5 separate regions of the Homo sapiens genome follow, and regions 1, 2, 4 and 5 are each linked to region 3. The links come from fine-mapping of genetic effects on gene expression. A gene starts in region 3. Each other region holds a variant in brackets. All regions are shown on one strand. Distances are between the middles of the regions.

Region 1 (5,000 bases), 130 kb after region 3:
GTAGCCTTGTAGTATAGTTTGAAGTCAGGTAGTGTGATGCCTCCAGCTTTGTTCTTTTGGCTTAGGATTGACTTGGCGATGCGGGCTCTTTTTTGGTTCCATATGAACTTTAAAGTAGTTTTTTCCAATTCTGTGAAGAAAGGCATTGGTAGCTTGATGGGGATGGCATTGAATCTGTAAATTACCTTGGGCAGTATGGCCATTTTCATGATATTGATTCTTCCTACCCATGAGCATGGAATGTTCTTCCATTTCTTTGTATCCTCTTTTATTTCCTTGAGCAGTGGTTTGTAGTTCTTCTTGAAGAGGTCCTTCACATCCCTTGTAAGTTGGATTCCTAGGTATTTTATTCTCTTTGAAGCAATCGTGAATGGGAGTTCACTCATGATTTGGCTCTCTGTTTGTCTAGGAATGCTTGTGATTTTTGCACATTGATTTTGTATCCTGAGACTTTGCTGAAGTTGCTTATCAGCTTAAGGAGATTTTGGGCTGAGACAATGGGGTTTTCTAGATATACAGTCATGTCATCTGCAAACAGGGACAATTTGACTTCCTCTTTTCCTAATTGAATACTCTTTATTTCCTTCTCCTGCCTAATTGCCCTGGCCAGAACTTCCAACACTATGTTGAATAGGAGTGGTGAGAGAGGGCATCCCTGTCTTGTGCCAGTTTTCAAAGGGAATGCTTCCAGTTTTTGCCCATTCAGTATGATATTGGCTGTGGGTTTGTCATTGATAGCTCTTATTATTTTGAAATATGTCCCATCAATACCTAATTTATTGAGAGTTTTTAGCATGAAGGGTTGTTGAATTTTGTCAAAGGCCTTTTCTGCATCTATTGAGATAATCATGTGGTTTTTGTCTTTGGCTCTGTTTATATGCTGGATTATATTTATTGATTTGTGTATATTGACCCAGCCTTGCATCCCAGGGATGAAGCCCACTTGATCATGGTGGATAAGCTTTTTGATGTGCTGCTGGATTCGGTTTGCCAGTATTGTATTGAGGATTTTTGCATCAATGTTCATCAAGGATATTGGTCTAAAATTCTCTTTTTTGGTTGTGTCTCTGCCCGGCTTTGGTATCAGAATGATGCTGGCCTCATAAAATGAGTTAGGGAGGATTCCCTCTTTTTCTGTTGATTGGAATAGTTTCAGAAGGAATGGTACCAGTTCCTCCTTGTACCTCTGGTAGAATTCGGCTGTGAATCCATCTGGTCCTGGATTCTTTTTGGTTGGTAAGCTATTGATTATTGCCACAATTTCAGAGCCTGTTATTGGTCTATTCAGAGATTCAACTTCTTCCTGGTTTAGTCTTGGGAGAGTGTATGTGTCAAGGAATTTATCCATTTCTTCTAGATTTTCTAGTTTGTTTGTGTAGAGGTGTTTGTAGTATTCTCTGATGGTAGTTTGTATTTCTGTGGGATCGGTGGTGATATCCCCTTTATCATTTTTTATTGCATCTATTTGATTCTTCTCTCTTTTTTTCTTCATTAGTCTTGCTAGTGGTCTATCAATTTTGTTGATCCTTTTGAAAAACCAGCTCCTGGATTCATTAATTTTTTGAAGGGTTTTTTGTGTCTCTATCTCCTTTAGTTCTGCTCTGATTTTAGTTATTTCTTGCCTCTGCTAGCTTTTGAATGTGTTTGCTCTTTCTTTTCTAGTTCTTTTAATTGTGATGTTAGGGTGTCAATTTTGGATCTTTCCTGCTTTCTCTTGTGGGCATTTAGTGCTATAAATTTCCCTCTACACACTGCTTTGAATGCGTCCCAGAGATTCTGGTATGTTGTGTCTTTGTTCTCTTGGTTTCAAAGAACATCTTTGTTTCTGCCTTCATTTCATTATGTACCCAGTAGTCATTCAGGAGCAGGTTGTTCAGTTTCCATGTAGTTGAGCGGTTTTGAGTGAGATTCTTAATCCTGAGTTCTAGTTTGATTGCACTGTGGTCTGAGAGATAGTTTGTTATAATTTCTGTTCTTTTACATTTGCTGAGGAGAGCTTTACTTCCAAGTATGTGGTCAATTTTGGAATAGGTGTGGTGTGGTGCTGAAGAAAATGTATATTCTGTTGATTTGGGGTGGAGAGTTCTGTAGATGCCTATTAGGTCCACTTGGTGCAGAGCTGAGTTCAATTCCTGGGTATCCTTTTTGACTTTCTGTCTTGTTGATCTGTCTAATGTTGACAGTGGGGTGTTAAAGTCTCCCATTATTAATGTGTGGGAGTCTAAGTCTCTTTGTAGGTCACTCAGGACTTGCTTTATGAATCTGGGTGCTCCTGTATTGGGTGCATATATATTTAGGATAGTTAGCTCTTCTTGTTGAATTGATCCCTTTACCATTATGTAATGGCCTTCTTTGTCTCTTTTAATCTTTGTTGGTTTAAAGTCTGTTTTATCAGAGACTAGGATTGCAACCCCTGCCTTTTTTTGTTTTCC[G/A]TTTGCTTGGTAGATCTTCCTCCATCCTTTTGTTTTGAGCCTATATGTGTCTCTGCACGTGAGATGGGTTTCCTGAATACAGCACACTGATGGGTCTTGACTCTTTATCTAATTTGCCAGTCTGTGTCTTTTAATTGGAGCATTTAGTCCATTTACATTTAAAGTTAATAGTGTTATGTGTGAATTTGATCCTGTCATTATGATGTTAGCTGGTTATTTTGCTCGTTAGTTGATGCAGTTTCTTCCTAGTCTTGATGGTCGTTACATTTTGGCATGATTTTGCAGTGGCTGGTACCAGTTGTTCCTTTCCATGTTTAGCACTTCCTTCAGGAGCTCTTTTAGGGCAGGCCTGGTGGTGACAAAATCTCTCAGCATTTGCTTGTCTCTAAAGGATTTTATTTCTCCTTCACTTATGAAGCTTAGTTTGGCTGGATATGAAATTCTGGGTTGAAAATTCTTTTCTTTAAGAATGTTGAATATTGGCCCCCACTCTCTTCTGGCTTGTAGGGTTTCTGCCGAGAGATCCGCTGTTAGTCTGATGGGCTTCCCTTTGAGGGTAACCCGACCTTTCTCTCTGGCTGCCCTTAACATTTTTTCCTTCATTTCAACTTTGGTGAATCTGACAATTATGTGTCTTGGAGTTGCTCTTCTCGAGGAGTATCTTTGTGGCGTTCTCTGTATTTCCTGAATCTGAACGTTGGCCTGCCTTGCTAGATTGGGGAAGTTCTCCTGGATAATATCCTGCAGAGTGTTTTCCAACTTGGTTCCATTCTCCCCATCACTTTCAGGTACACCAATCAGACGTAGATTTGGTCTTTTCACATAGTCCCATATTTCTTGGAGGCTTTGCTCGTTTCTTTTTATTCTTTTTTCTCTAAAGTTTTCTTCTCGCTTCATTTCATTCATTTCATCTTCCATTGCTGATACCCTTTCTTCCAGTTGATCGCATCGGCTCCTGAGGCTTCTGCATTTTTCATGTAGTTCTCGAGCCTTGGTTTTCAGCTCCATCAGCTCCTTTAAGCACTTCTCTGTATTGGTTATTCTAGTTATACATTCTTCTAAATTTTTTTCAAAGTTTTCAACTTCTTTGCCTTTGGTTTGAATGTCCTCCCGTAGCTCAGAGTAATTTGATTGTCTGAAGCCTTCTTCTCTCAGCTCGTCAAAGTCGTTCTCCGTCCAGCTTTGTTCCGTTGCTGGTGAGGAGCTGCGTTCCTTTGGAGGAGGAGAGGCGCTCTGCTTTTTAGAGTTTCCAGTTTTTCTGTTCTGTTTTTTCCCCATCTTTGTGGTTTTATCTACTTTTGATCTTTGATGATGGTGATGTACAGATGGATTTTTGGTGTGGATGTCCTTTCTGTTTGTTAGTTTTCCTTCTAACAGACAGGACCCTCAGCTGCAGGTCTGTTGGAATACCCTGCCGTGTGAGGTGTCAGTGTGCCCCTGCTGGAGGGTGCCTCCCAGTTAGGCTGCTTGGGGGTCAGGGGTCAGGTACCCACTTGAGGAGGCAGTCTGCCGGTTCTCAGATCTCCAGCTGCGTACTGGGAGAACCACTGCTCTCTTCAAAGCCGTCAGACAGGGACATTTAAGTCTGCAGAGGTTACTGCTGTCTTTTTGTTTGTCTGTGCCCTGCCCCCAGAGGTGGAGACTACAGAGGCAAGCAGGCCTCCTTGAGCTGTGGTGGGCTCCACCCAGTTCGAGCTTCCCGGCTGCTTTGTTCACCTGAGCAAGCCTGTGCAATGTTGGGTGCCCCTCCCCCAGCCTCGCTGCCGCCTTGCAGTTTGATCTCAGACTGCTGTGCTAGCAATCAGCGAGACTCCGTGGGGTAGGACCCTCCGAGCCAGGTGCGGGATATAATCTGGTGGTACGCCGTTTTGTAAGCCCGTCGGAAAAGCGCAGTATTCGGGTGGGAGTGACCCGATTCTCCAGGTGCCGTCCTTCACCCGTTTCTTTGATTAGGAAAGGGAACTCCCTGACCCCTTGCGCTTCCTGAGTGAGGCGATGCCTCGCCCTGCTTAGGCTCGCGCACGGTGCGCGCACCCACTGACCTGCGCCCACTGTCTGGCACTCCCTAGTGAGATGAACCCGGTACCTCAGATGGAAATGCAGAAATCACCCGTCTTCTGCGTCGCTCAGGCTGGGAGCTGTAGACCAGAGCTGTTCCTATTCGGGCATCTTGGCTCCTCCCCGCTTTCAGAAGAATCTTATATACATGCAGGAGTGGTGAGGTATGTGTTGAATGAAACCCATGGTTAATTTTGTGTTGATTCTACTCATCTATTCCTGCATGCATCCTTCATTTACTCATGTATTCAATTACTTTTTATGGAATTCATACTATGTTCCAGGGACTTACAGGGTAGTTGAGAAGTAAATGTGAACAAAACAGACATAATTTATTTCTGCTCATAGCTTGACATTTAGTGGAAGATATGGAAAAAAATAAACAAGTCCACGAAATAATTGCAAACTTCCATAAGTGCTATGAAGGAAGCAGAGTGTTGAGACTTACAGAATTTAGACAAGGCAAGGTTCTTCTCTGCTTTAAACCTCCCAGAGCTCCCCATGGGCTGG
Region 2 (5,000 bases), 36 kb after region 3:
CTGTCAGGCAAAGCCTTGCATATGGCCAGGCCTGAGAAATCCCATATAGGTTTTCAACCAGGAGCCTGATTCCTCAGGACATCAGTAGGCAACGTCATGAGCCTGGGATAAATGTAGGACTCAGTCGGTAGGGACATCTGGCAGAAATGTAGTGGCCAGGTACTGAATATCCAGCAGAAATATCATGAGGGGAAGAGCTGTTCCCTCTTTCTAAATTCACCACTGTTTACCCTGGCTCTCTGGAGCATATCAAAGCAGAACAACTTCTGTGAGTGATATAAGTGTCTTTAACTGATGCCAGCAGTAAAGTATGTGGAGCCAAGATAAAATACAGACAAGAATCTGGTCCAGGCTCATCCAGGCTCACACAAATAAAATGTGGAGATTTTGGGCATGAGTCAGTACTTGGTTCTGGACTGGCTACCTTCCATGGTTTGTGTACATCTGTCCTTTTGGCATCCCATTGGGATTTCCTTGACTGCTCTCCCCTGTTGGATCCCCTGTGCCCTTATCCTGTTTGTTCCTCTTTCTTGGTTTATTTTCCCTCTTTGGTAGACCTCATCTTCTAGTAGGTAGGTCTTGAGAGTAGATAGCTGGGAAGTAAACATTTTATGAAACTTTGCAAAATGTGTTTATTTGCTTTCGTATTTGGTTCACTGTTTGGCCGAGTGTTGAACTCTAGACTTGAAAACATTGTTGGTTGCTGGCCGGGCACGGTGGCTCACGCCTGTAATCCCAGCATTTTGGGAGGCCGAGGTGGGTGGATCACAAGGTCAGGAGATCGAGACCATCTTGACTAACACAGTGAAACCCCGTCTCTACTAAAAAATACAAAAAAATTAGCCAAGCGTGGTGGCGGGCACCTGTAGTCCCAGCTACTCAGTAAGCTGAGGCAGGAGAATGGCGTGAACCCAGGAGGCAGAGCTTGCAGTGAGCCAAGATTGTGCCACTGCACTCCAGCCTGGGCGACAGAGCAAGACTCCGTCTCAAAAGAAGAAAAGAGAACATTGTTGGTTGCTTCAGATGATGCTATTCAGATGTTCCTAAGTTATTCAAATTTCTAAACCTTTGTATGTGACCTTTGCTTCCCCTTCCTCTCTCTGGAAGATTGTAGAATATCTTCTTTGTCTCTATGGTTCTGAAATTTCAGAGCAATATGTCTCAGTGTAGATCTGCTTTCATGTGTTCTCTTGGACACTTGATGGGTTGTTTCAATCATGCCTTTGATTTCTGAGAATTTTCTTGAATTATTTCTTTACTTATTTTATTCCCTTTGTTTTCTGATTCAGAACTTTTGTTTGGATGTTTGTAGTTTCCAGTCCTCTAATTTTCTTTTTTTTCCCCCCATTTTTAAGCTCTTTGGCTTTGTTCTACATTCTAGAACATTTTATCAGCCTTATTTTTTCCAACCTTCTACTGAGTTTTTATTTTTCATTATCATGCTTTTAATTTCCAAGAAGTTTTGTTTGTTCTATAAACATTCCTTTTTAAAAAATAGTATTTTATTTTTGTTTCTTGGATTCAATAAATATTCTCTCTAAGGGTATTAATGATGTTTTTACCCTCCCAGAATAACCTTGGCATCTTCTAGCTTGTGTGTGTGGGTTTTTTTTGTTGTTGTTTTTTGTTTTGTTTTTTTTTTTTTTTTTGAGCTGGAGTCTCGCTCTGTTACCAGGCTGGAGTGCAATGGCACGATCTTGACTCACTGCAACCTTGGCCTCCTGGGTTCAAGCAATTTTTTCTTGCTTCAGCTTTCCAAGTAGCTGGGACTACAGGCACGCACCACCACACCCAGCCAATTTTTGTATTTTTTAGTTGAGAGGGGTTTTTACCATGTTGGCCAGGATTGTCTCAATCTCTTGACCTGGTGATCCGCCCGCCTCAGCCTCCCAAAGTGCTGGGATTACAGGTATGAGCCACTGTGCCCGGCCTAGCTTGTTTTTTTAAACATCCTTTGGTCTCTACCTTCCATGTTAGGTGCCTTCCTTAGATGTCTGGCAAACTTAGGCTGTCATGATTAAGGCTAGAAGACCAAAAAAAGCTGTATAGAAGCTCTAAATTGTGGGTGGAATCTGTTAAGGTTGAGTTTTTATATAGTTTGAATAAATGATGTGAGCAGAACTTAGAGTGACTGCCAGTTCTTTGGTTTGCCTTTA[A/G]ATGTAAAAGAAAATATAAAGTAACAGAGGTCTTTTAGGGTTGTAAAAGGGAGGTGCAGTGTTTTATTAGGTTAACTGAAATGGAAGATTATAGATGATTTTTAAAGAAGTGATTGAGTAGAGGGAAGAACACCTAAATGAGTTTAAGAGACTCTGTCTTCTATGTGAGAATGGAATAAGGTAGTGTTTGCAAGTGACCCAGAAGAATGCTTGCCTTCCAAAATATTTTTTGATTGAATAAATTAATTAATAATAAAATATTGAAAGAAAAACTTAGCTTATGGTTGCCATATATGAAAGGCACAATAAAAACATATTATCTATCACATAAGCTTTACTAGCGTTTACCAATTTAGGAAGTATTTTTCCAATGGACTCATTCTGAAGCTTTCCTTCTGCAGATTCCAATCTTCACTGAAGACTGTTTTTGATTGCAGAAGTTCAGTTCATGTATGACGCTTATGTGCGAGGCTCTAAACTCTTTACTATCAGAAACTCATTTAATCCATATGGTTTTCCCATGAGATAGGTAAACCGCTTTATAGATGAGGAAACTGAGACACAAGGATATTAAATAACTTTTCCGAGGTCACAGAGCTAGTCACTGGCAGAGTAGGGATTTGAGTACCAACAGTGGCTCCAAAACGTGTGCTCTACTGTCTCTGAGAATACATTTTAAGTGTTCTTTCCACAGCAATTAAATTGTCTGCAGCTTTAGTTAATTTTTGTTTAAAGATCCTGCATAATGAAGAAAAAAGTGTTTATTTCATTGCCAAAGTAAGTGGTATTTATATTTCATAAAAAGTTTTACTTAAAATGTTTTAAAGATACATGACACTAAGAAGGATCTAGACTTTCCGTTCTCTTTTCTGTTCTGATGTTCCAGAATATTACTGTTCTGTAATAATTCATTTCCGAAGGATTCTGAGGTCCCAGGATTTTGCTGTTCTTCAGCTGATATTTCTGTATGCATTGTTTTGGTTTGATAGGTGGAAGTTTACTCTTTCTAATATTGCCATTTTTCAGGATCCTATTGTGCTCCATTTTTAGCTGTCATACATGTAATTTTATAATTATTCTAATAGTTTCCTCAGTTAATTTTACTTAGACTCATTTATTGAACTAACGACACATTGGAGGGAAAGGTAACATACTGCATGTTGGGGGGCGGATTCTTAAATGTCTGCTTTTGTGATTACACATTTCCCCGACTCCTCATTCTCCAGGTAAGATGACTGTAACTCCATACCTTCGCATGATCTGGTAGTTTGTAGTTGGTAATTTCAGTATGGAAAGTTTTTCTTTTTTTTGGAAGGTTTTTCTTTAATGGTTTTCAAGCCAAGGTTAAAATATACTGTATTATTTCTTTTGGTGGTGAATACGAACAGCTATTTTAATGTTATCTGGAACATTTTTATGATTTGTTCCTTAGAAGTATTTTTTGGCAAAGATCAAGAGGTCTCCATGTAAGTTAATTGAACAACTTTCTTTCTATTAATGTGCTCTACAATGGGTATGTTAGTTATTAGTATGTTTTTAAACTGAATTTTCACTGCTTTGTATATACATGCATATCTTTTGGCATTATTCAACTTTTTATAATCAAGTACGTCAGTGGTCCCTTGCCCCATCTGTCTTCCCCACCCTGTGTATCCCTTTGTCTAGGGAAAGCCACTTTCAGATCTTTGGAAACTCAGCAATTCTGATACGTAAAACCATAGTCCGCAGTTACATTATTATGACTGTAAAAATATTGCTTACTGCTGAATTAAGTGGTATAAATAATTGTTTATTTGGTAACTTAAAATTTTTCCTGTGGTTAATTATTGCTAATATTTTGTTTTCCTTGGTGTTCTGTATGCTGATTAATTCCTCTCCAGATCTACAGCTGAACTGTAAACACTTATTTTGTACTTTGTCAAATGTATAAAATCCATTATTTCAATTCTCCCACTCCTATCCCCTGGGGCCTCCCTCCTGGAGCCTCTGTCTCTGGTTCCATCCTAGACCCGTCCTTCCCTGGGCTTCCGTTTAGCGATTCCCTTGGAGTTTTGTTTACCACCATCCTGAGAATTCCCCTTTCCTCTCTTGCATTGGATTCATTGTGTTTTGGACCCCAGGTTGGTCTCTTTCTGGTCTGTTTCATCCTTTTGAGGATCATATCCTCAGGTAATTTCCAAGAGAGTCACAGAGATAATTTTAAAATACATTTGTCTGACATGTTTGAACATTTCCTTTTTTATTTTTGTACTCAATTACTGGTTTGCCTGGTTGTTGATTTTTATTTTTCCTCAGACTTTTAAAGGCTTTGTTCGACTGTATTCTAAGATGGAGTGTAGCTTTTCAAAAGTCTGGTGCTATTCTACCATTAGTTCCTTTTGTGTGTGGCTAGTTGTTTTCCTCTGGCACCTTTTGGGTTCATCTTTCTCTCTTTAGTCCCGTAAAAGGTCATGATGTGGTAGATATTATTTCATCCTTCTCATCGCATACTTTGTGCGCTCTATCTGGGCACTTACTTTCTTCACTTTGGAGGAAAACTTTTTTTAGTATTATTTCCCTAATGACATTCTCTTCTCCATTTCTTTTTTCCTGTTTTCTTGAAAGTTAGTGATTGGATATTGGACTTCTTGAAGTCGAATTTTCTCAGGGTTTTTCTCCCTTATTTTATTTTTACATTTTATTGTCATTTCTGTTAGATTTCCAACTTAAAGAATCTTGAGTTTGAAAATTTCTCTGCCTGTTGCATTGTCTTTGTTACCTCTAGGTCCCCCTTCAATTTGTATTAGTTTCTATTTTTCACATTGGAAGCTTCCATCCCCACAGCCTGCTGATTCCTAGCTTGAC
Region 3 (5,000 bases):
CCTGTGAACTAGATGTTTTTGTTGCCTCCATTTTAAGAATGAAGAAATCCAGACTCAAAGAGGTATAATACCTTGGTCAAGGCTGGTATGGGTCAATGTAGTGGCTGCAAACTGGATCTAAATTGACCGTGTTTAAGAAAAAAACAAACAAAACAAAAAAACCAAAAAACTAATACCTCACACTGCCCCTCTCCGCATGGTTGCCAAGCCGAGAAGGGGAACTGACAAGCACTTGTGGAACTGCATTCATTCACTCACTCATTCAACAAGTGTTTTCCTGGTACAAACGGTACCAGCTTAAGGGAGGCAGTTCCTGAATTCAGGGCCTATCACATAAAGTAGACACACAGCAATCTAATAATTCAAATGTTGAACCTCTTTTTCCATGCGTCTTTCTAATCATTAAAAAAAATCCATCATTTGTATTATTTTTATTTATTTATTTTTTTGAGATGGAGTCTCGCTCTGTCGCCCAGGCTGGAGTGCAGTGGCGTATCTCAGCTCACTGCAACCTCCGCCTCCCGGGTTCAGGCGATTCTTCTGCCTCAGCCTCCCAAGTAGCTGGGACTACAGGCGCCTGCTACCACGCCTGGCTAATTTTTGTATTTTTATTAGAAACAGAGGTTCACCATCTTGGCCAGGCTGGTCTTGAACTCTTGGCCTCGTGATCTGCCCGCCTCGGCCTCCCAGAGTGTTGGGATTACAGGCGTGAGCCACGGTGCCCGGCCAGTTATTCGTATTATCTTTAATAGGCATTGAATTAGCTTTCTTTTAACTGAATACATTCAACATTAATCCCAGAGGTAGCATTGAGTTCAGCTGACACAATGTTTCAGAATCCAAGCCTTCTGCATCCTACTTTCAACCATTATTTTTTAAACCAGTGTATAAAAATAGTTGTTCTTTGCTCCAATAAAGACATTGGAAAATCCAAATTCATAAACTAGACAGGGTATGAGGGAGTATTAATTAGCATGGCAAACACCCTCCCTTTACAAAATAATCCACTGTCTCTTAAAAAGGCTAACAATGAACGAATGCTGGTATTAGTAAAGAAATCACTGGGCAAAGAAACAAAGAGCGAGAAAGCCACGTGAAGTCCCTGGAATTACAATAGAGATAAGCAGAACGATGGGCCTTGATTTACAACATTGGGACTTAAAGACAACTTTTTGGAACAAGCCACTGGGCACGGCCAGGAAAGGAACCTCCCAGTTGTAATCCATGCTGTTGTAAGACTGTGTGCAAAGAATGCAGGGGTGGAGGGAGAATTGGGATCTACCTGGGTTTCTAAATTTTCCCGGGTTTAATTTACTCGTGCATTCTGCTATGTAAAAGAAAACATATTTTCGACTAAAATCTCCTATCTTATCAACGCCAAGTTTTCCTGCTTCCTATTAAGCAACAAGGTTACAGCAAGTGTAACAAACTGAATGTACTTATTGATGATCTTTCCTGCTCCAGCCAATCCATCCTATCACCTTCAGCCTGGCTCCTACCCTGGTCTTCAGTTTACACTTGTGCCTCGTCCCTTATCAGCTCCCCATGAGATTCCAGGCTGCTATTTTAATACTCTGTTACTATCTTAAATCGGGTCGCACCCGTTCTTCTTGTCGGTGAGTGAGGGGCTGCGCTCCAAGTTGCGCGACCACACTGCGGGGAGTAAACGGAGACGGTGACTTGATTGCCACCCGCGCGCTTCACATCGGTGGGGCCGACCAGGCGCCCAGGGCGCACGCACAGCGCCCCTAAGTGGCCGCTCCGGGCGCCTTCTCCCTGCCCCGCCGCGTCTCGCCTGCGCGGGCTCCAAGCGCAGCCTTAACAGGCTCCGAAACTTGAATCAGCGCCCCGATCCCGAGAGGGCTCTTCCTTCGGCCCCATCACTCCCACAATGGAAGGGCGGCCGCCTCCGGAAGGCCGTCCGCCCCCGCGTCCTCGCACCGGCCGAGCCCCGCGCGGGCGCCGAAGAGGTGTGGGTAGCCGGGCGCCAGAGGGGTCGGGCCCCGCCTGCGCCGGAAGTCCGCGCGTGCGCGCTGGCCGGCCTGGAGCGCGCGTCCGGCGCAGAGGGGCGGCGGGGGCGGGGCCGCGGCCGCTCGCAGGGTGTCCCCGCCCCCGCCCCCCGGCGTTCCGCGGTCGCCGTGACAACCGGAGCGGCGGCAACGGCGGCGGGCTAGCAAGTCCGGCGCCGCCTCCCGGCGGTACTGCCAGCCAGGCAGCAGCCGCCCGGCCTCCACGATCTCCCCGCCTCCCGGCCCGCGGGGAGGGACGAGCCCGCCCTCCACCCTCCGCCCGCCCGCCCGCTGGAGAGTGAGCTGCGCCCAGCCGCCCAGCCAGCCCGCCGTTCTCTGGCCGCCGTCCGGGCGCGCGCAGCGAGCGGGCGCGACTATGCCAAGATGGTCCTGCAGGCGCGGAACAAGCACCGGGAGGCGGCTCCCAAGCCGCCCCAGCCACCCCGCGCCTCACAGTCGCCGCTGAGGGGGGCGTCGGACGTCGGCGCCGGGGAGCCGGGGCCCGAGCGCGCGCCCCTGTCCCCGGGGCGCAAGGGCGCCGCGGGCAGGAAGGGGCCCCGCGCCGAGCCCGGCGCGCCGCCCGCCGGGGGCGGCCTTGGGGGGCGCCTGGCCGCCCGGCTGCGCTGGGCGCTGGGCCTGCGGCGCGCGGGGCGCGGCCGGACCTGGACCACGCTCCTGTTAGGTGAGCAGCCCTAGCGCCGGCGCCGCCGGGACGCGGAACTTTGAGGCGCTGGCCCCCTCCCCTCCCCTCCCCTCCCCTTCCTTCCCCTCTCCTCCCGCTTCCGCCGCGCCGAGCCCCGCCAGCCGGACCAGCCAGTTTGCAGCCCTCTCCGACTTTTTCTCTGGGACATTCTTACCTTCTCCTCCCCGCAACTCCCTGGCTCAGCTCTCCTCGCACGCTTCCCACCCGCGCTCTGCCTGGGCTTTAAAAGAATGGCCCGGGGATCAACAGCTGCCCGGCCTGGCCGCGGGCAGCAGGTCTGCGCTAACGAGACTTGAGCGCTGCTGATTGGTACGACTGGCCGCCTTCCCGTTATCTCGGCCTCTGACCGCCAGGATGGTTTGCTTTGGCTTGGAAACGATTCCGTGGAGCTCAAAGCAAACGCACGTTCCATGTCGTAGAGAGTTGCTTAAACTTATAATTAAATTTTAGCGTACTTTTTTCTTCCTGGCCGCAAACGCCGCTGGTGGCACTTTATTTGTGATTCCCCTCGACACGTCACTTTCTAGGTTGTGTTGTGTTTGGGGCGCCCGAGCCTTAATCCTCCCTGCTGCCCTTGGAACCTTTGGTGAGGAGGGCTCTCCTCCCCTCCCTCTGCCATTTACCAAATGGATGATGTGTAATGATGTGCTGAAAAAAAAAAACAAAGTTGACGCATTCGTATGTTTCGGACTGACTTCAGGTTTCCTCTGTTTCCTGGTTGAATTTTGATAAGGCAAGTTGTAGCAGTTTGGATAACAGGCCTAATTTTTCTAAGTCAACTAGTGAAATGCTGTTACATTGCTTTTTTCTATATGCCTCAGTGGGCTTTTCGCTACTGAACTATTTAATTACTGTTGATTTATCCCTTAGTATATTTTCAGATTCCCTTGGTGACTCAAAGTTCCCTTAGCCAGGAGTTGGGGTCCAGTATAAGTCAAGGAATAGGACACAGCAAATTGGCTTCCCCTGAGATCACAGCCACAAATAAAAGCCACTCAGTCATAAAAAGCCAGTCATCTCTGTATGTTTTAATGGGCTCAAGAAGGTTGTTCCTAGGGTACTTTTTTTCCCCCCATTGCCGATTCAAGCCTAGAAAAACCAAGTTTGTTTTTCTTTGTTTGTTTGTTTGTCTGTTTCCAGCACATTTCCCCCCGCCCCCTTTTTTTTTATCTCAGTAGCAAGCTTGAAAAGCTGGCTAGTATGCAGGTTAGAAAAGCTCACCTTGGGGAGGCAGCACGATACAGTGGATGAGGCAGAGCCTTCAGATCTAGTACACAGCGGTTCAGTTTGGTTTAAGTTTCAGGTTCCTTTGTGAGTCTTTCGTTCTCTGCTAGTGGGGGGTTATCACATGGCGAATTTACTCCACAGGGATCCACAGGATCTGTTAAGGATCATAACTAAAAGGTGTGGGTGATACATGGGAAGATACTTTGTGTTTAGAGCACTTGACACATTGTAGTTGTTGTAATAAAAGAAAGTGTGTGATGCTGATTTGAGATCTGATGACAGAATGGAGTTGCATTTTTATTGAATGACTAAACATTAACCACTTTGTAGTAAAATATAGAATGGCATTGCTTCTTCAGGGATGTTACAATAACAAATCTTAGAATAATGATATTTATTGCTATTTTCTGCATATTTTCTTTTTTGATTGCGTTTCCTTTGAATCTTCTTTGGATGGATGCATGACTTATATTTGGATGACTTACCTTTGGATTTAGTAATTCCCATACCTAAATACAGTTTTGTATTAATGTAACAGTATAGCACGTTGCTTGACTTGCCCCTTTGAGCATTGAAAGGAGGTACAGTGAATGTGGTAGATTGTATTTTTGGGTGTACCCTGGACCATGGCCATCAGATATATGGAAGTTGGATGAACAGACCCAGGTCTAGAGACTTTCTGTCCTTGTTAACCCTCTGCATGAGGCCCCAGGGCACCTTGAGAGATGATTCTGCTGAATGATTGGACCTGGGTTGCTTCTTTCTCTGGCTCTGTACCGTCATAAACTGATGTCAGACCTATTTCTTCCCCACGATTATGCCCTGCCACAGCGTCAAAAAACCACTCAGATCCTGCAGAGAGGAGCAGAGTTTAGACATTTTTGAAAGCTGCCTTATTTCCTGTTTTCTTCCCCCCTCCCAGAATGAGTGAGAGTTGAGCTGACATTATACAGTATTTCAATGTGGGACTTTAAAATAGCTGTTTGGTTTTCCACATTGCATTGCATATTCTTTTGTTCATCAAGAGTTCATTTGTAACTGATCAAAAAAAGAACAATTAT
Region 4 (5,000 bases), 26 kb after region 3:
GCTTACAGGGATTATACCAAGGGAGCGCTGTTACTTTTACATGTCATTTGTTAAATGTTTTCTTCCCTTTCCTCATTTAATTGAGTGCACTTTCTTGAGTGGGAGTGGAGGGAAGGTGAGCCCAATCCAGCAAGTGGAGATGACATTTGGCCTCTCCTTTATCCTCCTTGCAAAACTATAAATTTGTTGATGTGGAACTCTAGTTCAATAGAATATATATTTTAATGATTTTGTCAGAAGGCTTTCCAGATAGATATTGAACTATCCACCAGCAGTGTTTTTGAAACTACTTATTTACCTGCATCTTTGTTAATTGGATAGACAAATTGGTCACGTGATGTATTTCATTCATTGATTTTATATATATATATCAGTGTTCTCTATATATGTATATATAACACACATACATATATACATAATGCATTTTTACTTTTAAAAATAATTGCCAATTCATGCCTTTCATCTATATTTCTGTTAAAATTTTATAAGTTCATTTATTATATACTGGATATTAATATAATGCTATATAATGAAACATTTTCCCCAGTTGTTTGCCCTTTAGCTTTGTGTATGATGTCTATGTATTTTTTTCTATACAGAAATATATCTTTGAATCTTTTTTGTCTTTTATACATACATGTAAAAAACTTCATTTTTATAATCATAATTTTTTTTAATTTACATTTTTAATTTATCTGGAATTGGTTTTGATGCATAGTGTGGGGTAGGAATCTAACCTTGAATTGTTTTTTGAAAATGTATTGTGTGTAACCTAACACTGATGAGGTGTCCATCCTCTCTCCACTGATTTGAAGTAAGCTTTTTTCTTTATATGCAAAATTATTATACATACATGCTTGCACGTGTTTCTGGATTTTGTGCTCAGTATTGCCTTAGGTTGAGGTCCTGGAAAGTGGACTTTGAGATGGAGATTTGCATGCAGGAAGTAGTCGAGGGAGTGTCCTTAGGGCCAACACCTGAAGGGGGATGAATGAAGCAGAATGAGGTAGGAGGAAGAGGAGAGCTTTGATACAGTCACTGTGAAGGCCTCATCCAGTCCCTGGGCAGCTCTGGATCTGGGATGGCTTTGCAGAGTTGTCCTACCTTGTGAGAAGGGCCCCTGGCCTTGATGTCTTTCCCTATTGACTAGTCGGTCATCAGATGCAGATTGCCCGTGGGTAGGGGATGTCACCTTGAGTGAATTTACTTTCTTCAGCCATGGGCAGTTCCCATGGAGGGACACAGCTTCAAGCTTTCAGGCACCAGTCTTCTAACCAGCTGGAGGAATGAGTGCCTCAGCCCGGAAGAGGGAATCTGGGGTGGCTTGCCACCGCTTGTACCATGGTTATTGATCTGTCTAGCCATTCTTGTGCCAGTATCACACTATTTTAATTATTAAAAGTGGTAAGACTTAATATCTGTTAAAACATTCCCTTTAATTTTCTTGTTAGTTTTCTAGATACATTTTAGACACTTGGAATTTTGACTGGAATTATTTTATGTTTATGAATTAATTTGAGGGAGAATTCATATCTTAAATAATTCGGTCTATTCCAGTAGACCCAGTATCTTTTACTTGTGCAAATCTTCTTTTGTGTCTCTTAGTAGAGTTGTAGAGCTTTTGAAAAACATAAATTTAGCACTTTTTTTTGGCCCATATTTTGTCCTTACCCATGGATGAACAATTGAAAACTGACCAGTGAAGAATCTGCCTAGGAGATTCTGAGCCTTGTTTTACTACATTTAAAGGGAGCCAAGTGGATGGTATGGAAAGGGAAAATATGGTAATTGTCAAAGTATCTCAAAAGTATTCTAGTAATGAAAATTGTTTAGTATATTTTCTTAAGATGCCTCTGTATTTTTTAAAATAGGTAATTTTGGCCAGTTGGTACCGGATTTATACCAAAATAATGGACTTGATTGGTATTCAAACCAAGATATGTTGGACGGTTACCAGAGGAGAAGGACTCAGTCCTATTGAAAGCTGTGAAGGTAAGTTTCTTTCTGTAATATTGTCCAGTTATCTGTTGTAACATAATAAACTTATCTAGCATAATAAACTTACACTGTAAACTTAGTGGTATAAACAACACCCATTTTATTATGCATATATAGATTCTGCAAGTCCAGAATTTGGGCAGGCTTTAGCGGGGCTGGTTTATGTCCATGATTTCAGGGACCTCTGCTACTAAGACTCAAATGTCTGGGAAGGCTGGAATTAACTGAGAGGCTACATTGCTCACATTTTGGCTCCTGGGCATGGAGGACTGTGAGGCTGAGCTCAGCTGGAACTCTCAGCTGGGACACCTACATGTGGCCTTTCGGGGTGACTTGGGCTTTTTGAAAGCAAAGTACCTCAGAGTAGTAGTAAGGCTTTTCCTATGGCAGCTGAAGGCTCCAAGCTGGACACTGTATGACCTCTTATGACCTAGCCTCAGAAGTCACATAGTGTTGCTTCTGCCATACTCTGTTGAAAGAGTCACAAGCCCAATGAAACTCAAAAATGGGGGCTATAGACCCCATACCTCCAGAGGAGGCGTATCAGTGAATTTGCAGCCCTGTTTTAAAACCATCATTGCTAATTACCCTGGTCTCATCTATGTTCTGCAGTAGTGTTGTGTTTTCATGTGGGAACCAAGGCAGCTATTTAATATATCTGGCAACCATTTTCAAAATGAACACAATTTAATATAAATTGCTAGACACGTAAGGTAATTTGGGTTAATGTGATTAGAACATATGTTTTGTTTATTTTTAAAGGATTGGGAGATCCTGCTTGCTTTTATGTTGCTGTAATTTTTATTTTAAATGGACTAATGATGGCATTATTCTTCATATATGGCACATATTTAAGGTAAGAATATTTTAGTATGTGTTTATAAGATATACTAAAATAAAATAGTTGATTAGTTAATAGTTAATCATTGATTAATTTATAGTTCAGTTTTATGAAAATATCCTAAAATATCTTATTATCATAAAATTCATTATTTGCATGATTTCACCACTGCCATGGCCCATCACACTTAAGATAGTTTTAGAGATGTAAATAGAATTGGGAATACTTGATAAAT[T/C]TAATTACTTTTTTTTTTGAGACAGGGTCTCACTCTGTCACCCAGGCTGGAGTGCAGTAGTGTGATCTCTGCTCACTGCAACCTCCGCCTCCTGGGTTCAAGCGATCCTCCCACTTCAGCCTCCTGAGTAGCTGGGACTATAGGTGCACGCCACCAAACTCAGCTAATTTTTTTGTATTTTTTGTAGAGACAGGGTTTGCTATGTTGCCCAGACTAGTCTCAACTTCCTGGGCTTGAGTGATCTGCCCATCTCAGCTTCCAAAGTGCTGGGATTACAGGCATGAGCCACAGTGCCTGGCATAAATTTTGAATATTCATAGGCATTTGAACATAAGCAATATATATTCCATATATTGTTATGGAATATCTAATATATTGTTATGGAACAGTATATTCCATTTGCTGTATGTACGTGTATACGTGTGTGTGCTGAGATGTGTGAAGTCTTACTTCTTACTGTAGTTTTGGTGTAAAAAAAGTCTGTAGACTACTGCTTAAGGTAACATGAGGGAGCAGCTTTTACCTTAGAGCATTTGGGTCTTTCTAGATGGCTGTCTGTGGTTCTTCTTCCAATGTCAATGGCTGTAGATGGTTTCAGCTCCATCCAGTATATATTGTTTACATAAAATATAAGGGAAAAGACCACTCATTATCAAATGATATTAATAGCTCTTTATTAATGTTAAAGTAGAAGTATCTTCTATGTAATATTTAGAAGTGTCTTCTGTACAATATTTAGTATCTGACCTGATTTACTTTACAGTTGAGCAGCATTCCTAAAACTAAAAGACTAATTTTTTAAGGCTTTTTATGTTTACTTCTTTTTTGCCAATTTATTATTCTGTATATATGTTTGAAGTATTTTACCTTGAGATTATCTTTAGAATTTTCTTCCTTGCTGCTTATTGATTCTTTGTAGTACAGAATTATGAGAATTGTATATGATTTTCAATTTGGGATAATGAGTTTGAATTTGCTATTATCGCATTATCTCCTTTCCTTTGGAAGTGTGGCATTTTCAGTTTAGTACCTCAAAGATGTGTTGAGTTTCTAGCCCACCGTTTGAGTATCTAGCAGTTACTTGATAAGCATTTGTCAAAAGAGGAAGCTGTTAGAAGATCAATGTAAAATATATTTGCATATAGATTTAAGACACTTTGATGTTACTATTTCTGACTTAGGTCTAAGAAAATTCTTTTGTTTAATTGGGGAGACTAAAATAAAAATGCATGATTAAAAGATGATTGTGAAAGATTTTGTTTTTGAAACAAGATGCAGGGAAATAAGTTAAACCAAAAGAATATGGTAATGAGAAAAGGAGGCTGACTTGAGGGAAAGTGGGCCTGTGTGCTTGCATCGTAATGAGCCAGAGGGAGAGAAACTTGGTGGTGTCTATTCATTTTGCTGAGTACTGCCCATCTGTCTATGGGTAGCTTTATTACATTTGGGAGATTAGATTTTACATAAGAGAAGTTAAAATATGAAACATGGCATTACTGCTAAGCTGCTAATCTGCACTTATGCTACCCTTTTTTTAAAAAAATATGGGGTCTTGCTATATTGTTACCCAGGCTGGAGTCTAGTGACTATTCACAGATGTGGTCACAGAGCACTATAGCCTCAAACCACTGGCTTCAAGCAGTCCTCCTGCCTCAGCCTCCCAAGTAGCTGGAACTACAAGTGTGTGCCACCATGCCTGGCTACTTTTTTAATTGAAAGAAGAATTTGTAAACATCCGTTAAAGCATTCACATTTTCTTGTAATGCTTGTTATAACTGTTTTTTCAAAGGCAGAAGGCACAACATCTACTGAAGAGAATAAAAGTTCCTGGTTTTGGTTGAGGGGTTTTTGGTGGTTTTGGCCCTGACCTGACCTAACCCTGTGGTGCCTGGTAGACAGTTTTTTGTCTACATGGGAGATGCATAT
Region 5 (5,000 bases), 93 kb after region 3:
TTTCGTTTAAAGAAGAAAAGATGTAGATGGAAAGCGGATAATTACTTTGAAATATGGTAAAAGCCTGTGCCTTGAAAATAAGGTTACACACAATCTGGCTCCTTAGAATCATGGCCAATTCCAGGAGGTATGACTTTTGACCAGAACTGATCTCGACTGATAAGGAAAGTGTTATAGATTCAAGCAGCAGCTGGTGGATTCTAAGGGCTGGATTACAGCCTGTCATCAGTGTTGTAGAGAATATTTGTACTGGAGATACGATTTTAGATTAGATGACCTCCTCATTATTGCTGAATATGAAAGCACAGTGACTGTGTTTTGAATGCTTCCAGCTGTGATTATCAACCTCTGAGCCAGCTCTCCAGTTTTCTGAGTGCACTGTTAAGAAGAGGTGTTGCCAACAACGTTGGCATGGTGGAAGCAGCGCTGAATGTGAATTTGAAGCCAGAAGATCTGGTTTCAAGACTGCAGTGCTTCTTAGTAGTTGTCTACCTACAGGGCAATCATTTAATCCATATGAACCTGTTGCTCATTTACAAAACGAGGATGATATAATCTACCCAACAGGGTTGTTGAATATTAGCTTTGATCAGATACTATACAAATATAAGATTATGTTGTTGTGATTATTATTTTCTGAGTTATCTCTATACTTATATTTTCATTAAAAGTTATTTTACAGTTTAGAAGATACTTTATTTAAAATATCATTTTTCCCAACACAGCTTTTCTAAAGTGTTTCAAAATCTATTTACAGATTATTAGTGATATGTGGGGTGTCTTAGCTAAACAACAGACACATGTAAGGTAAATATGCTATTAAGAATTTTATTACCTCCTCTGTTCATTTATTAAATAGATATTTACAGTGTATTAATTGTATACTTACATGTTGTGTACCTAATATTTGATAATTGATGTTTTTATTGTGGTCATTTCCCTTCCTGGCATTTCTTCTTATTTCCTATCTGTGCAGAACACAGCACATCACTTATTCATCCTTCAGATGTTATCCAGTACAGTCTGACAGTAGCCCTGCACATAATCTACACTCAAAGGACACAGTTTTGTACTTCATTTCAGCAGGGAAAGTAAATTATTACGTGAGTGGTTTTAGGACCAGTGGACTGCCTTTTTGGAAATGAGCAGGGAAATATAAAACTGGATTCATACCTCACTTTTTACAGAAAATAAATTTCAGATGAACCAGAGAATTATGTATAGGAAAAAAAAAACCCAAAATTAACCAAGAGGGTTTGTTTATAACCTGAGAGTTAGAGAGGCCTATAGCATGCTTGGTATTTTCCACCATCACACCCTTTGTCTTACTCTCTTACCATTTGTCACCCTTTGTACTTAAATGTTGATGTGTGACCCGTATCTCCTGAAGGGAGCGATCATTTTTGTTCAACAGTTTATATACAGTGCCTGCAAGATAGTAAAGGATAGTAGTTGAATGAGTATTTACATATGACTAATGAACATGAAAAGGTAGTCTTGATCCTATGGTAAAGCCATTCAGGTTAAAGTGAAGACCTTTTCACTTCTTATATTTCTAAAAATTAATAGTATATCCAATGCTTGCAAGAGTGGGAGGTAGTAGATGGGAGGGAAGTTTGGCAATACACAGTAAAACATATAGTGGGCCTGTCCTTTAGCCCTGCAGGTTCCACCAGTGCAAGTGTACCCTCTAGAGATGCTCACAGAAATACAGAGATGATGGGGAGAGATGCCTTTTGTAGTATTGTGTGTTATGTGAGAAATGGAAACATCCAAAATATCTACTATGATACATAGAGTGGAATGTTAGGCTATCTTTCTGGAAATAGGTCCAGTATACATTATTGAATTTTTAAAATTGCCAGTGTGTGTGTGTATAGGATAATTATACTTCTCTTTAAAATTTAGAGATTTTTATGTGTTTGTGCATAGAAATGATCCGGAAAGATAAATCCTGTAATTATTAAGAGTGGGATTAGAGGATGGAGTGAAGGTAGTTTTAACTCTACTTTTATTCTTTTGTGGGATTTTGGGGGGAGAAGGATTGTCGAATGTGTATGTATCTATATTTTCTTTTTTTTAATTTTTCTTTTTTTTTTTTTTTTTTTGAGACAGAGCCTCACTCTGTCACCCAGGCTGGAGGAGTGCAGTGGCACGATCTCGGCTCACTGCAACCTCCGCCTCCCGGGTTCAGGCGATTCGTCTGCCTCAGCCTCCTGAATAGCTAAGACTACAGGCGACCACCACCACGCCCAGCTAATTTTTGTATTTTTAGTAGAGACGGGGTTTCACCATATTGGCCAGGCTGGTCTTGAACTCATGAACTCGTGATCTGCCTGCCTTAGCCTCCCAAAGTGCTGGGATTATAGGCATGAGCCACTGCGCCTGGCCCTATATTTTATTTTATAATTTGAATATACACACCCTTGTATTATTCCCTCACCTCCAAGTCTCTGCCAACATAATGATAAATTATTGCACATACTCCTGAGAGAATCCTTGTTCTCATTTAGAAACAATTTACTGTAACATATACAGGTATATGTTTATACCTGTAACATTTGAGTTGAGGGCTAAGGGGGAAAGAAAAACGTTCTGGTTTACAATGCCGAAATTTTTCATTTGAGGTGAAATTATTTTTGAAGAGCTCAGGAAGAAGCTACAAAGTTTCAGCTGTAGTATGCAACTCTGGAAGAGGAA[G/A]GTGGAACTTCTCACAGAAACAAAGCTGTCCCTTCAAGAGTAATAACTCACCTATAGAAGTAATTATAGGAAACCATTGAGCTTCATGGAGTTGTCAGTTCAAATAGGATCAGAGCTCTTTTTTGGAAGAGGAGTGGCATGTTGACATTTTATTTTGCATAGCTACCAAAGCCAGTGTAAAAAGGAGAAGAGTAGGACATAAATTTTAACTATCAAAGACATGAATGCCAATATTCTCTTTACTCAAAGACCCAGGAAGTAAAGTGGGATAGAGACAGCATGATGTAGTAAAAAGTATATTGGCTCTGAAGTCAGTCAGAATATAGTCCTGGCTGCCACTTACTAGCTCTGTGATTCCTTTCCTTGGCTGTAAATTGGGGTAATAAATGGTTGTAGGATTAGAGTTAATGGAATGTACTAAGCATATTAACATTGTAAGTACTCAACAAATGGTAACTGATAGTTTTTACTTGGTGTGAAAGAAGAATAAAGAACTGTTTCATCTCCTTCACTAGCCCCTTATGTGTCCTGAGTTTGCTAATATATCAGTCTTTTTGAGGCTAGATTCTCAAATTAGATTATATGCTACCTGGATTAACAGTTTATTGATACACTTGTTCATTCATTAAAAATGTTGAGCTCTAAGTGTCAGGTATTACTCTAGGTCTTGGGAACATATCAGTGCTTAAGAAAGAGAAGGTGTGTGTTGTCAACTCACACATTTCTGTCTCTGACCCAGACTTCTCCCTTGAACTCAGATTTACACATATAACCACGTATTTGTTATCTCTACTTGGTTGCCTAGTGAAAATCTCAAAGGTTTTTTTCATTCCATGCTTTGCTGGGGTATCACCAGTGAGGGAGCTGGGACACCACCGTGTGCCTTTGTTGTCCTAATAAATACCCATGTAGTCAAATAGGATATAATACAACATTGTCATTCTTCATAAATTTTCTTAAAATAGTATAGCACCAGTTTTGGCATGTGACTTTTAGTTATTTTGATTTGCCTGTGTGTGTCCTGAGAGAATGTTATAGAAGTTGTAAAACTCCTGTTTGCAAGATGAAAATGCAAATATATGACGTAAGTGCTTCAATAATGAATTGATGGCAATATATTTTTTTCTGTTCCAGAAAACACCAGTTTGATCATGGAGAGGTAAAGACTTAATATGACTATAATTTTACTTATCTTAAAGTTGCATGCATTTGGACTTTCCTTTCTAGTTCCAGTTTCTAACTTTGTTGGCAATTGTCAGCAATCATCTTGAAAATAGCCTGTTATGTGTTTTTATGAGAATGCTATATGCAGATTCACTGACTATTCATTTGTTAAAATTAACTAGGAAACTCATATGTTCTGCTCTGATCATCTTTACACTAATGGCAGTTGATTTCTGGAGCCCATTTAGACATATGTATGAGGTGTCTATTGCATGATTGGAAATCACTTTCCTCTCTGCTCACCTTGCTTGAGGCCTCAGAGATGTGATTGGTTACTGCTCCCATCTCCTAGTTGTCCAGTCTGGTTTTGAGGGCAGTTCCAAGGTGGAGCCCTCAGATCTTGAGGCAGCAGTCATTTCTTTTACCACTGTCTTTTCTTGGTCTGATGGTAGCATCAAGGTTGATTAAAAAATGTGGGCTTTATTAACCACAGGTTTGACTCTGAGAATCACAGAAACACTTGCCTTAATGACTTTATAATTTTAGCCTTCCACTAAAATGGAACAGTTTGAAAGTGAATTTTAAGAATTGTTTTCGAAGTTTCAGAAACCTTAGTAGTATTTTTTGTTACTAAGGAGAACGTACCCCTTTCTGCATATTGCCAGTTTAGTATTCTTAAACTTCACAAACAGTAGGAGTAAAAAACATTTTCTTCTTTCTTTCAGCTGGTTTACCATGCATTGCAATTGTTAGCATATACAGCCCTTGGTATTTTAATTATGAGACTAAAACTCTTCTTGACACCACACATGTGTGTTATGGCATCACTGATCTGCTCAAGACAGGTAACATGTTATGTTGGAGTATAGCTACTATGATAATTTTAGCCTTTATTATTGAGTGGCCCTAAAATAATGAATTACAAAGTCTTTTAAGTGATTATAGTTAAAGCTCTTCATGGTTTTGTACTTATCTTTCTTAAAGGGTAAGGGCCAAAGCTGATCATTTTCTATCTTTCTAAAGATTTAAAATAGTTGTTGGTGTACAACTAATACCGATTTAGTACAGACTGAGTTCATGAGTGATTACTGCAGGTGCTGATAGAAAGCAGAGCTTAATTGTACAAATAATAACTT

Alleles and levels. Alleles are on the strand shown, and positions count from the first base shown. SD is a standard deviation of normalised expression in the study named. Not every link is listed here.
For the expression in visceral fat of the gene that starts at base 2,303 in region 3, allele A in region 1 goes with a lower level than allele G (small effect, 0.21 SD a copy in GTEx).
With allele A in place of G in region 2, the expression in subcutaneous fat of the gene that starts at base 2,303 in region 3 is higher (small effect, 0.29 SD a copy in GTEx).

What was found. PIP is the estimated chance that this variant, and not a neighbour inherited with it, causes the effect. A credible set is the group of variants that fine-mapping cannot tell apart.
Region 1: its variant is the best candidate, but not a certain one, in a credible set for the expression of DPY19L1 in visceral fat (GTEx, PIP 0.72).
Region 2: its variant is the best candidate, but not a certain one, in a credible set for the expression of DPY19L1 in subcutaneous fat (GTEx, PIP 0.53).
Region 4: its variant is the best candidate, but not a certain one, in a credible set for the expression of DPY19L1 in whole blood (TOPMed, PIP 0.65).
Region 5: its variant is the best candidate, but not a certain one, in a credible set for the expression of DPY19L1 in whole blood (TOPMed, PIP 0.83).

The regions. Positions count from the first base shown.
Region 1 is chr7:34,905,855-34,910,854 of GRCh38, reverse strand. No RefSeq gene overlaps it. Among named protein-coding and RNA genes, the nearest start is that of MIR548N, 32 kb to the left of the region's middle. The variant G/A (reference allele first, on the strand shown) is at 2,433.
Region 2 is chr7:34,998,775-35,003,774 of GRCh38, reverse strand. The region is part of intron 6 of DPY19L1 (dpy-19 like C-mannosyltransferase 1); the gene reads left to right. Among named protein-coding and RNA genes, the nearest start is that of DPY19L1, 36 kb to the left of the region's middle. RefSeq lists a silencer at 1-17. The variant A/G (reference allele first, on the strand shown) is at 2,157.
Region 3 is chr7:35,034,788-35,039,787 of GRCh38, reverse strand. It overlaps DPY19L1 (dpy-19 like C-mannosyltransferase 1), which reads left to right and starts at 2,303. Exons shown (of 22, transcript NM_001366673.1): 1 at 2,303-2,691. The coding sequence starts at 2,394. It overlaps LOC105375228 (a long non-coding RNA gene), which reads right to left and starts at 3,002. Exons shown (of 3, transcript XR_001745162.3): 1 at 2,867-3,002. RefSeq lists an enhancer at 1,464-1,693 and silencers at 1,744-2,413, 2,444-2,613.
Region 4 is chr7:35,008,322-35,013,321 of GRCh38, reverse strand. It overlaps DPY19L1 (dpy-19 like C-mannosyltransferase 1), which reads left to right. Exons shown (of 22, transcript NM_001366673.1): 5 at 1,872-1,992; 6 at 2,761-2,854. Among named protein-coding and RNA genes, the nearest start is that of DPY19L1, 27 kb to the left of the region's middle. The variant T/C (reference allele first, on the strand shown) is at 3,075.
Region 5 is chr7:34,941,474-34,946,473 of GRCh38, reverse strand. DPY19L1 (dpy-19 like C-mannosyltransferase 1) reads left to right here. Exons shown (of 22, transcript NM_001366673.1): 16 at 758-807; 17 at 3,835-3,859; 18 at 4,590-4,709. LOC102724723 (a long non-coding RNA gene) reads right to left here and starts at 4,248. Exons shown (of 3, transcript XR_001745166.2): 1 at 4,168-4,248; 2 at 1,338-1,428. The variant G/A (reference allele first, on the strand shown) is at 2,701.